2 separate regions of the Homo sapiens genome follow, and region 2 is linked to region 1. Evidence: fine-mapped expression QTL. A gene starts in region 1. The other region holds a variant in brackets. All regions are shown on one strand. Distances are between the middles of the regions.

Evidence for each region. PIP is the estimated chance that this variant, and not a neighbour inherited with it, causes the effect.
Region 2: its variant is fine-mapped to the expression of LINC00882 in lymphoblastoid cells (GTEx, PIP above 0.99).

The regions. Positions count from the first base shown.
Region 1 is chr3:107,238,994-107,241,907 of GRCh38, forward strand. LINC00882 (long intergenic non-protein coding RNA 882) reads right to left here and starts at 1,645. Exons shown (of 4, transcript NR_028303.1): 1 at 1,450-1,645. It overlaps DUBR (DPPA2 upstream binding RNA), which reads left to right and starts at 1,699. Exons shown (of 4, transcript NR_028302.1): 1 at 1,699-2,094.
Region 2 is chr3:107,201,582-107,204,495 of GRCh38, forward strand. All of the region lies in intron 1 of LINC00882 (long intergenic non-protein coding RNA 882), which reads right to left. Among named protein-coding and RNA genes, the nearest start is that of LINC00882, 38 kb to the right of the region's middle. The variant G/A (reference allele first, on the strand shown) is at 1,312.

The DNA.
Region 1 (2,914 bases):
CCAAAGACGGGCAATTTGAACTTCAAAATGGATAATCACTGCAATTATATAAAAGTGTAAAAAGAGATACAGATACAATCAACATGAAACTCCTAGAAGCAACAGGAGATTCAATATGGTAGCAAGATACAAAATTAGACATAGAAATCAGTACCTTCATTTATGTAAGAATCTAGCTGTTATAAGGAAAAGTGGAAGAGATAATCCCACTTACGATACCAACAAAAAAGAGAAATACTCTAAGAATAAACTTAACAAGTGAAAAACCTTTATGATGCTTCCTTGAAAGACACAAAGCTGAAACTTGAGCACGAGAAAAAATAAACCTTGCTTTTCAAAAGGAAAATGCAACATCATAAACTGAAAAGGTATGCAGAAGATTTTTTTTTTGAAAGTACTTTTATGGGGCTATATTCTATAGTTAACATGAAAAAATAACCCAGCATTAAAAAAACACTTAAGAAAACAGCAATGATGCAGTCTAGCCCTACCAGATACTGAAATATAGTCTCTAATAAAAACAGTATATTAGCCCATAAGTAGACAATAAGATCAATGCGGGGAAAAAAGAAAATATATCTTAGACCCAATTACAATGTGGAAATTTACGTATGTGATAAAAATATTGCAAATCGCTGGTCAGGGAGGTGCTTTATAAATTAAATGTTATGACAGCTAAAAAGTCATTTGAAAATAGATAAAATTGGATACATCACCTAGGTAGAATTCCTGCATATATGTTTGTGTGTACATATCTATTACTCGTGAATCTTATAATGAGGAACCAATCTGACATCTCCAAATTGAAGGATATTCTGGAAGACCACCGGGCTAGACTTTTCAAAAATGTCAATACCAGGAGAAACAAACAAAAAAGGCTAGGGAACTGCTCTATATTGAAGGAAGCGAAAGAGACTTGACAACTGCAATATGTGGTTCTTATTGATGCACTATGTGATTCTTGTTAAATCTCGGATTTACATTTTACAAACTACAGGGTAAAGAAGGACATTTTGGGACAATTGAGGAAATTCAAATATGAAATATAGATTATTGTAATATAACAATGTTACATTTCCTAAGTATGATGATGTGCATTGTGATCCTGTGGTCCTCAATTGAGGCAACTTTGTACCTCTCCTTTTTCCCCCAACCCTCACCACTACCCCTCCCCCCCTCAACCCCCCCAACCACACCGTTTGGGTTTGGCAGTGTCTGGAGGCATCGTTGGCTGTCACAACTGGGGGAGGGGGTTGCTACTGGCATCTAATGGGTAGAGGCCAAGGATGCTGCTAAATAGTGATTGTTTAGCACAGGACACCCCCACCCCACCCCGTCACCCCACCTTACGGGTACAGACAGCAAAAACTCATCCTGCCCAAAATGTCCATAGCGCGGGGTTGAGAAACCCTGATGTAGAAAAATCCCTTATTCTTAGGGGATACATACTGAGATATTAGGCTGAATCACATGACATTGTCTCTTGCGTAGGTCAAGTATCGGCAATATTTAAGGACGAAAGGTTATGACGTTCACAACAAACTCTCAAAATAATGAACAAGCCCCTTCCGCCCCGGCTGCCCCGCGACCTAGGGGACCCGAGAAGGGCGCACTCGCACGGGCCGCGGAGGCCAACGCCGAGCCTGCGCGGCGGGAGGCGCTGAGAACTCACTGCGCACGCGCCGGTCGGCTGGCCGCACCCACGCGGCGCAGCTCCCAAAGTTGCAGACAGCCCGGCGAACCGCGCAATGCGCTTCTTCTGCCTGCAGCAGAGAAAAGGAAAGAAAACTCCGCAGGGGCTCCGTTGGCTTCTCCACGAGTGACAACCATGTTTTCCCAGATAGAAGACCGGAGCCCTGCTCCTTTGCGATCCGCCGAGGGCTGCAGAGAGCATCCTCATCCATTTGGGCACCCCTGCCCAGGAAGAGCCCGGCCATCCCTTTCCGGACTGGATCCTTAAGAGGTGAATTTTCTTCCGTGGATTCCGATTTGCTCCGTCTGACCAGCCTAGGCAATCCAGCATCGCGTGGTACCAGTGCCGCTGGGCACACTGGCTTCACGCCGGCTCCGCCTCACCAGCAAGCGCATTCCCAGGTAAAAATTTTAAATACCTTAGAATTCTTCTGCCTAGACCCTCTAATCAAGAAGTTTACCCACTTTTTCTGTAAGGAGCCAGAAAGCAAATACTCTAGAATTTGGGCCTGGAACTGTCTCTGTAGCGTATTCGTCTTTGTTTTGAAAATGTAAAAACCACTCTTAGCTGCTGGCCTTACAAAAATAGAATCATGAGGACTGTGAAGATTAGAGCCTAATCACTAATTCACCCAGCACAGAGGCTAGAGCGCCAGTGAGTCCTCCGCCCCTTCCCAGGCCCGACCATAGTTTTGCAGTTAGGACCCAGGTTTTGTGAGGACTGGGACCCACCCAGGTTTAGTTCACAGTCTCTTGAATCCCTCCCTGCACCTGCACCTCTGCTCCTCCCCCTAGGCCGGTGGCCCTTGGTGAGTTTCTGGCAGTCTCCTAGGCCACCAGGAAACACTCCGACCAACTGCCACGCCCTCCTTTGCTCCAAAATGACAAGCTCTTTTCATCTGGGAGCAAAAGCTGAAGTCCCCACATTTGAACTAAATTAGTTTAGTGTAAAAGTAGTACAAGATTATCTCAGACAATTGTATTTTAATAGTATTTTTTTCTAGTGATAAATGTAATATATGTCTACTATGGTCATTTGGAAAATTCTGAGACGTATAGAGCAGAAAAGAAATTCTCCATAACCCTAACCCACAAAAAATAACTTTTGAAATGCTTGTGTATTTTTTAATTCTTTTTTAATGCATATTATAGGACAACTTACTGAACATTTGGATTTTTAGAAATATTTTTAATAAAACGTGTTGAAGTACAGCATACAAAA
Region 2 (2,914 bases), 37 kb before region 1:
CTCCAACCAGGAAAAAGACAAGCAAAGGGAAGGATGAACATGTGCTATGATGGCTGGCTGCTTAAAGAGAAGAGCCACACGAGTCTGAATAGAAATATTAGCAGACAAGAAAGCTCTATTTTCTGATATTATTCCAAATAAACAATGGAAGTTTTTTTTTCCTTTGAAGAATCCAAGAATGGCTTAGAAAATTGTCACATTTCATCTTATTACAGTATTTGTTACTAAGCAAAATATTTTCTAGTGATGAATAACACTAGAAGTTACCAGAGAAGCTCTCTCCTCAGAACTACAAAATTTTTCTTTCTTACCATTCACAAATGTTTCAATAATTTTTTTTTTAACTCTTGGATTTACTCTCCTGTAGAGAACAGCACAACGTTTTCTCCATGTCTCATCAGGATGGTGGAAACAGCAGCCACTGGAAATTCTGCCCACAAATATTCATAAACATATCATCCTGATATAGATAGACCCTTCACAGTTGTCAAAGCACCTTCACTTACATTATCTCATGTAATCTTCACAATGATGAAACAGGAGCAGGGAGGTATATTTTTCCAACAAAAGAGAAACTGAAGCCCAGATAGATGGTTTCTCTGGTTTCTGATGCAATTGCTTCTTCTACCAATGTGTTCCCAAGACAGACCATGGACCTTACTTCCAGGCTGCACCCACGATCACTACACAAACTGCAGTGTTGTTACTAACCTCCACCTGTGATCTATCTCCCTATTTCATCTCAGTGACAAAACTTCCTGGCCTCTGTAGCTCGTTAAATCTTAACCCAATGCCAGAGTTCCCAAAGTAAAATTGTCAGGGGGGATTTAACCTAAGTCTTTCTACCAACTTATTGTTAGTTACATACATCTGCGCCAACAGATGATCATATTAGAAACCAAAATAACAATAACAAACAACAATAATAATAGCAACTCTCAGGTAGCACTATGATAGACTTTTTATTTACTTTATATTTTATCCTCAAAACAACCCTAAAAGGTAAATTATTAGTATTCTTATTTTATACATGAAGAAACTGGGTCTCAGGGAAGTTGAGAACTTTAGTGGGGCCACAGAGCTGGTGGTGATTATGTCAGATTTGAAAGCCAACTTCAGCTGTATTCAACGTGCACCCACTTTTCATAATGGTGCATTGTTTTAAATCTCTGAATTCCCAATATCCGGCATGATGTCTACCACATTGTTAGTGCTCATTGACAGTGTTAGTAATTAAAGACAGAACCAATGTATTAGTCTGTTCTCACACTGCTGATAAAGACATACCCAAGACTGGCTAATTTATAAAGG[G/A]AAGAGGTTTAATGGACTCACAGTTCCACATGGCAGGGGAGGCCTCCCAATCATGGTGGAAGACAAATGAAGAGCAAAGGGACAGCTACCTGGTGGCAAGCAAGAGAGAGCTCATGTAGGGAAACTCCCCTTTATGAAACCATCAGATCTCATGAGACTTATTCACTATCATGAGAACAGCATGGGAAAAACCTAACCACATGATTCAGTTGCTTCCCACCAGGTCCCTCCCATGACACATGGGAATTATGGGAGCTGCAGTTCAAGATGAGATTTGGGTGGGAACACAGCCAAACCATATCAACCAAAACAAGATGTACATTCTCCTGACTGCACTGGACATCTCAATTTTCCTATATGATGCTCACTCCCAGTTTTCTATCCTGTGGGAGCTGCTATCTTGCATTCCTCTTAATTCAGTGGCCTGGAGGAGTTCATGTTGCATATTCTACACTGCTGCTGCCAAAAAATTGCCCTTCACCAGCCCTGAGCATCCTCTGCTGAGGCACACTTGCTCCCTTATGCACTTTCCTACATCTTTATCTCCATCATCTGGTGAGCTCCAGGACACATCCTAAATTCCTTAATAGCTCTAGCCACCTAAGACAAAAATCAACAGCTCCTCATCTGCCACCACATTTTTCTTGACCTTCTCAATGTCAAACAACTACAACTATGATCCACTTCAGCCACTTTGCAGCCTATCATCTCTTGGAAATGCCCCAGCTTGAAAGTTTTCATATTTGTATCTCCCTTCTCTGGCTTCCACCACTCATCTCTCCTTTATTGAACCTGATCATTTTTCTTCCACTTTTTTCAACAATCTGCAGCCTAATAAACAAATCTCCTGCCTCCCTCACACCTTTGCTGTTTCCTTCACCACAACTCTATTCCCTCTACTACAAATATGCTCAATCTTCCATCACCTACAAAATCTTTCCCACAAACCTACTCAAAATCAATTGTTCTTCTATATCTGCCCTTAATATTTGTCCATTTACTTGAAATTTATAATTTGAGTAAGTCCATATGTAGAAATTTAGCCTTTTAGAAATTTACTCCAAAACTATACAAAAAGGCATAAAAAAATTATGGCATGACTTCTGCATATTTCTGCGAAAATGCCTCAAATATCGGGAAAAAAATAATGACATAACGATATCTTTTCACATTAGCAACTTGTTATCCAAATACAAGCAGATCAGGATAACTGGCCAGCCACATGCAGAAGATTGAAACTGGACCACTTCCTTACACCATATACAAAAATCAGCTCAAGATGGATTAAACACTAAATGTAAAACCTAAAACTATAAAAGCCCTGGAAGATAACCTAGGAAATGCCATTCTGTACATAGGCCCTGGCAAAGATTTCATGACAAGCATGCCAAAAGCAACTACAACAAAAACAAAAATTGACAAATGGGACCTAATTAAACTAAAGAAACTCTGCACAGCAAATGAAACTATCAACAGAGTAAACAGACAAGGTACAGAATGAGAGAAAATATTTGCAAATTATATATCCAACAAAGGTCTAATATCCAGAACCTATAAGGAATTTAAACAAACTAACAAGAAAAGACAAACAACCCATTAAAAA